Linked DNA regions of Homo sapiens. The protein of the gene in region 1 interacts with the protein of each later gene in a pairwise test. Each region holds a gene or a part of one and is shown on either strand. Other genes may lie near its edges.

What was found.
Region 2: the proteins of VAMP5 (region 1) and SLC14A2 interact in binary tests that used the Homo sapiens proteins (3 or more experiments, as listed by UniProt).

What each region holds. Positions count from the first base shown.
Region 1 is NC_000002.12:85,583,291-85,587,230, reverse strand, and holds the start of VAMP5 (vesicle-associated membrane protein 5), read right to left. Parts: upstream 2,801-3,940; 5' UTR 2,741-2,800; coding exon 2,738-2,740; intron 1-2,737. UniProt on the Homo sapiens protein: May participate in trafficking events that are associated with myogenesis, such as myoblast fusion and/or GLUT4 trafficking.
Region 2 is NC_000018.10:45,681,476-45,684,188, reverse strand, and holds the end of SLC14A2 (urea transporter 2), read right to left. Parts: intron 1,871-2,713; coding exon 1,670-1,870; 3' UTR 501-1,669; downstream 1-500.

The sequences.
Region 1 (3,940 bases):
TCGTTTTATAAAATGCACAGCCAAGCAAGCTCTTCCCTATGGCAAACTTGTACACATAGTACACATAATTGTTTCTAACCTGTGGCTCAGAACTTTAAATGGGCTTTTGGTAACTTGGTAACTAGCATCTAGTTTATTTTCTTTCTTTTTTTTTTTGAGATGGTGTCTCACTCTGTCGCCCAGGCTGGAGTGCAGTGGCGTGATCTCCACTCACTGCAAGCTCTGCCTCCTGGGTTCACGCCATTCTCCTGCCTCAGCCTCCAGGGTAGCTGGGACTACAGGCGCCTGCCACCACGCCCAGCTAATTTTTTGTATTTTTAGTAGAGACAGGGTTTCACCGTGTTAGCCAGGGTGGTCTCGAACTCCTGACCTCGTGATCCACCTGGCTTGGCCTCTCTCTCAAAGTGCTGGGATTACAGGCGTGAGCCACCGCGCCCGGCTGCATCTAGTTTATTTTCATCTGGCACGGCAGGCTGTTGAGGTTTTACATCTTGAGCAAGAATAACAGCCACCATCCAATGGGCACATACTCTGAGGTAGGCACTATGCTGCTTGCTGTTCATTTGCTCTGTCTCATTTAATCCTCACCCAACAACCCATTGAAGGCCATATTATTAACCCAGTTATTTTGTTTGTTTGTTTGTTTGTTTTTGTTCTGAGACAGCCTTACTCTGTCACCCAGGCTGGAGTGCAATGGCGCGATCTCAGCTCACTGCAACCTCCGCCTCCCAGGTTCAAGCGATTCTCCTGCCTCAACCTCCCGCATAGTTGGGACTACAGGCGTGTGCCACCACACCCGGCTATTTTTTTATATTTTTAGTAGAGACGGGATTTCACCATGTTTGCCAGGCTGGTCTTGAACTGTTGAACTCGTGATCTGCCCGCCTCGGCCTCCCAAAGTGCTGGGATTACAGGTGTGAGCCACTGCGCCTGGCCTTTTCCCAGTTTTATAGGAAACTTTGGCTCAGAGGTGTTAAATCACCTGTCCAAGATCACAGAGCCAGTGAGTAGAAGATCTGGGAGTTGAACCAACACAGACTCCAGGCACCACATTTGTAACCCGTGTGCTAAATTAGATGCAGGTACAAGGAGGTCAGACACTTTAGCTGATTGGCTAAAGAATCTGGTTGATGCTACCAACCTAATTTGTGTGCATATGAGGGAGGCCTGTGGCTCAACACACACATTCTTTGGAGAGAGGATCATCTACAAGATTAATGAATTCAAGTAATTATTCATTCCATTTCCATCTTTCCCATCACTGCTTTGTTCCTGCTCTGTCCCCTATACTTGTCACCATGCTGGCATGAAGGACATTTCCAAGAAATCCTTGTTGGTTGAATGAGTCATAGAGAAGAAAAGAAAAGTGAAAGGAAGAAGGACCAGGGAGGGAAAGGGGATGGGTGGAAGGAAGGAAAGCGCTAAAGGGGCAAGAGTGAAAGAAGAAACAGGAAGAGGCTAGGAGATGGATGGGTGGAGGAGCGACCTCCCCAGCCTCTCCTCCACAGACTGCCTCAAATGTACCCGTGAGAATCCCCAGGTTTCCCAGTATCCTCCTCCCCCAATAAAATATCCTGCCTTCAGCCTTCACTTCAGGAGCTTCTCCCAAAGAGCTAAGGGCCGGCTGAAGCCCACCCCTACCCCTGCCTGACCCCTTGCCCTGCACACCCTTAAGTGGGCTCTGGGCTCTGCCCTATTCTCAGAGCCTTCCTCAGCTTCCTGGCCTGGCCTCAGAGCTCAGTGCTACCTTCCTGCCCCACTTCCTCTTCCTGCCTCCAAGTTCCCTGGAGATAAGGCCATCCAGGCATTGACCCCTAGCCAGGCCACATCCATCACACCTCTGTCAGTTTCTCCAAGGCAAAATCTTAAAGCACCAAGCCTACTTCCTGCCCAGTCCATTTTCCCAGGAGCCCTAGGGAAAGGGAGAAACTGGCACCAGCTGTTCCTGACATCTTTGCCTTGGAGATGGCAAGTGAGGACAAAGGCCAGGATCTGCAGCAGGAGTGGGGATGACTCAACTCAGGAATGTGTCACTAGGTAGAGGTTAGCAGGGAGTCAGGCCTGTGCCATACACTGATAACTTCAGTGGAACTTTCAGAGTAAACATCTCCCTTTCTCTTTCTCTAGGGGAGGAGTTCGCCCTCCAACACCCTGCCATGGGGCTGGAATGGCCTCTGCCACCCCATCTGCTCAAGTTTCCAACTCCTGAGCCAGGCTTGGCTCCTCACAGCTGCGGAAAGGGCTGACGAGGTCGTTACATTTCCTACCACTTCTTAGCAGTGGGTTCTGAGTGCCAGGCGGGTCTCTGCCACTGTGGCTCCTTTAACCTCGCAAGGACCCAACAAGGCAGGTATTACTGACCCCACTTCACAGACGCGGAAAAGGAGGCTCAGGGAGGTTAAGTGACTTGTCCCGGGTCACAGAGCTGGGATCCCAGCCCGGAGTCCGACTCCAAAGTCGGTGCTCTTAACCGCTTTGCTTCAGGAGAATGGGGAGCCCGAGTCCCGCTCGCTCTGCGCGGTGCAGCCAGGACGGGGCTCACGCATTTCTCTCCCATGCGGCGCGCAGGGAGTGGAGGGTCCGCCCCGTCCTGCTCCAGCAGTGGTCACCGCCTCAGGTCTGGCCCTCGTGGGCCCCAGGGGAGGCCCCAGCCCGCGGACTTTGGACTCCTCTCTCCCACCCTCGCCACTCGCCCTCTGCCCGTCGCAGGGCTGGCCGGCCCCGCCTGGGCCCTCACCATCGCTGCTGCCGCCGCCGCCTCGCCCGCTCCCGGCTTCTCTGCCTGCGGAGCGGCCGCAGTGCCAGCGGCCCCGGAGGAAGAGCAGGGGCGGGGCGGGGCGGGCCGCCGAGCGAGGGCGGGGGGCGCGCCTTCCGCGAGTGGCGACAGAAACCAAGTCAAATCGAAAGCGATGGGCCACAGCGACCTGGGTCCGTAGAGTCGGACCCTCCCGGGCCCCAGGAGCCTGAATTCGGATGACACCTCTGCCTGGTGAACGGGCACACCTCGGGGCCGGATCTGTGGAATGGGCACAGTGGAGTGAGCCCTGGAGTCTTCTAGCTCGAGTTCAGCTGAAAAGGCATCATTCATTCACTCAACAAACACCCTATGAGTGCCACGGTCAGGCACCATACTAGGTCCTGGAGACGCCATGAACAAGCCAGGCAGGGTCTTTATCACCCTGGTGAGTGCATCTCACCCAGAACCAAAAACAGGCACCCAAAAAGTTTTGAAACTAAAGACAAGTGGTGGTTGCACAACATTCTGAATACATGTCACTGATCTGTACACTTTAAAATAACAAACTGTACATTGTGTGACTTTCACCTCTATTCAAAAAGAAAGCAGCCCCACATGGGCAAAGTACTAGCTCTAGCCTTTCTGTATGTCTTTCCTCACCATGAGGGCAAGTGCAGCTCTGTGCTGTCATGCACCCGCCATGCACTTGCTCCTCAGTCAGAGGATGGGGGAGGCTGGTGTATCTACTACCACTTCAGAGCCTTCCTGAGCCGAATCTACCCATCCTGTCCTCTCACTGCTACAGAGAAACCACCAGCTACCTGTTCTCCACTACTCCAAGCTGCCTCGGACATCTTAAAATAAGGTCCCTCGTTTTTTTTTTTTTGTTTGTTTGTTTTTTTTTTTTGAGAGAGACAGGGTCTCACTATGTTGACCAGGCTGGTCTCGAACTCCTGGCCTCAAGCAGTTCTTCTGCCTCAGGTTTCCAAAGTGTTGGGATTACAGGTGTGAGCCACTGGGCCTGGTCCCTCAAGTGAGGCCTCTCTTGACCAACAGAATTGAAAGTTTCCCTCTCTGGGGCTGAGCCTCTGTGAATACAGAAGTCCCAGACCAAGAGGGTTTCACAGACACTCACCCCCACCTTGGACAGCCTGGGTCCCAAGGCAGAAGCTTCACTTCAGTTCCTTACACCTTGAATCCAGG
Region 2 (2,713 bases), on another chromosome or scaffold:
CCCCACATTCCCTCTTATGTCCTCATCCCCATGACACTAAACTGGGAGTGCATGTGTGCTTGGAGGGTGGTGGGAGGCACTGCTATGGTGCTATGAGAGGTTCATTCCCCTCTGGAGAAGGCGTGGGAAGGTCAGGCCACATGGAGTTCCACAAAGAAGGTTTGTGGCTTAGGAGCTTGAAACTATAACCAGAGTGACTGAACAAGGGTTACTGGCCACTCAAGACTGGCTTGATTTGTAATTTGGGGGCACAAAGCTAAAAGACTCTACCCTAAATAGTGAGATGTGTTATTAACAATCTGTGCTTCAACTCAAACAGAAAACCAAGTCCAAGGTCATTTCTGTGTAATTCGCTCCATAAGCAAATCAACCCCTGTTCTGATGATTTTGAGCCCATCCTTGTCTCTTTTCAGGCACATGCTTGACCATGGAAAACCCCTCAAGTGAGCAATGTATGAACCTCTAGGTGAGCCCCGTTTTAAGAAAACCCTGATGCCGACTTGCAAACTTAAACAGTTTAATGACAGTATGATTATGAATATTACAAAGGGAAACACATTTGTTTATAATATGATTTGAGTGTTGATAAAGATCAGTTTTCATCTGACACTTCCAGAAATATTTCTGTAATGTAAAGGAAAGCACATTGGCATTTTCAGTGAATTTAGGTTCCTAACCCCACGTCTGGAGAGCATTTTCCTATGACTCAAGAATAAAACTTTATAGAACGTTAACATTTTCCTGCCTCTTCTTGGGTAACCCTTCTGTCCTTTACTTAAATTACTTGTTGTCATGCTGATTTCATCAGATTATAGGAGAGAGAGAATAATCAACACTTCTGAGGTGGAAAGGACTTTCAAATCCTTCCCTGTCATGAAACTGATTAAGAAATGGAGGTGGAGAGTGGGGAAAGACTTGCTCAACCTGGTAGGGGCTCATTAGCAGCAGAGCTGGGGCAGAACCAACCCTCTTGCCTTCCGGGCTAATGCACAGTTCTTGGTATTGTGTTTTGCCATATTAAATGACCGAGTTGTGTGATGACCATGTCACTGACCTCTATCCCTTTCTTGGTGACTTCCCCTTTTTTTTTTTTTTGAGACAGAGTCTCACTCCGTTGCCCAGGCTGGAGTGCAGTGGCGTGATCTTGGCTCACTGCAAGCTCCACCTCCCGGGTTCACGCCATTCTCCTGCCTCAGCCTCCCAAGTAGCTGGGACTACAGGTGCCCGCCACCATGCCTGGCTAATTTTTTGTATTTTTAGTAGAGATGGGGTCTCACCATGTTCGCCAGGATGGTCTCGATCTCCTGACCTCGTGATCCACCCGCCTCGGCCTCCCAAAGTGCTGGGATTACAGGCGTGAGCCACCGTGCCCGGCCGGTGACTTCTCTTTAAGGATGAGGCTTATTTCGCAGAAGAGGGCAAGTTCCCCACAAAGGGAGCTCTTATGGGAAAGCTAAGGGTATAAAGTCTAAACTAAACATATCTTTGATAAGTGTTGTGCATCTTAGAAAAGAGAGGTTCTGGAATGGTGACTACATACACGCTTCTTTGTGTTTGGGGAGAGAGTCACAGAACAGACCAAAGGGAAGGCTAAGTGGTCTCTTATCCTGGGGATCTGGACGGCGTGCTGAAGCCTGAATTTACACTGATGTGTTTTAGACAGGGAAACTTAGGAGACATCGTAGGCCTGATACTTTGTTATGATTGATGCCCTTCTGTTTCTCTCCTGGGACAGGTAGTAGATGCGGTTGGCCTCTGGGTAGGTGACTTTGCTGAGCGGGAGCTTGTAGATGGCGGGGTTATTGGTCGTCAGGAGCAGGAAGGTGAGAGCTGAGAGACAGAAGGGCCAAGTGCAGGGCGGCAATCCAAACTGGAGAGAAAGAACACAGATAAGCCTTGGTCACATCAGGTGCCTGTGCATTTTAATCAGCCCTTATCAATCACCTACAGCCCTGGGGACATGAGGGACTGCTTTGAGGGCATTGATACTTCATTGATGACCAATATAAATAAAATCATGCCAGTGCTATTCATCTGCATTGCAACAGGTGAATGCACAGTTTTCAAAATGCAGCCACTGGGAACCCTAATAGTTGGGCTAATATGCCCTTATGTAGAAGTCATCAGAACATAATATGCCTTTTGTAGAGGCTGTGTTTTGTCAGAAGCTATGTTTCTGGCCAGGTTAGACTTCTAACTCTAGGAACTATGGTCATCCTGTGTCTTCTCCCATCAGCCCCTGTTGGAGAAGTGTCTTTGGCAGCCATTTGGTAGCTCAAGATGTTTTCTGTTTGGTCATAGCTGATTGGACTAGAGATAGGCACCCAACTCAAACACTGCTTCCTATAGGCAGGTGAAAGTGCCCGCTGCCAACAGAATCCCTCTCTTGAATAGTTGAACTAAGAGGCACAGAGACTGTGTCTACAGGGTTCTGGAACTGAAAAAACTGGGGAACAAACCAGGGATGGGTGGCCATTGGGGGATGTGTGCAGTAGAAGTAACCCGTCAGAGAGACACAGGGAAAGTGAGCAGAGAGATGGAGAGAGGCAAAGATGTGTCATCATTGTCCTATGGAGCTGGAGACAGAGCACAGCTGCCTTTCTTCTCAAGGGCTCTCCAATCTCCAGCTCTTTTTCTCTTGATGTTGACCTGTTTTTATTTCTTGAGATGCTCTAAGGCTTTTTAGTACTCTTCTCCACTCTTCATTTGAGAT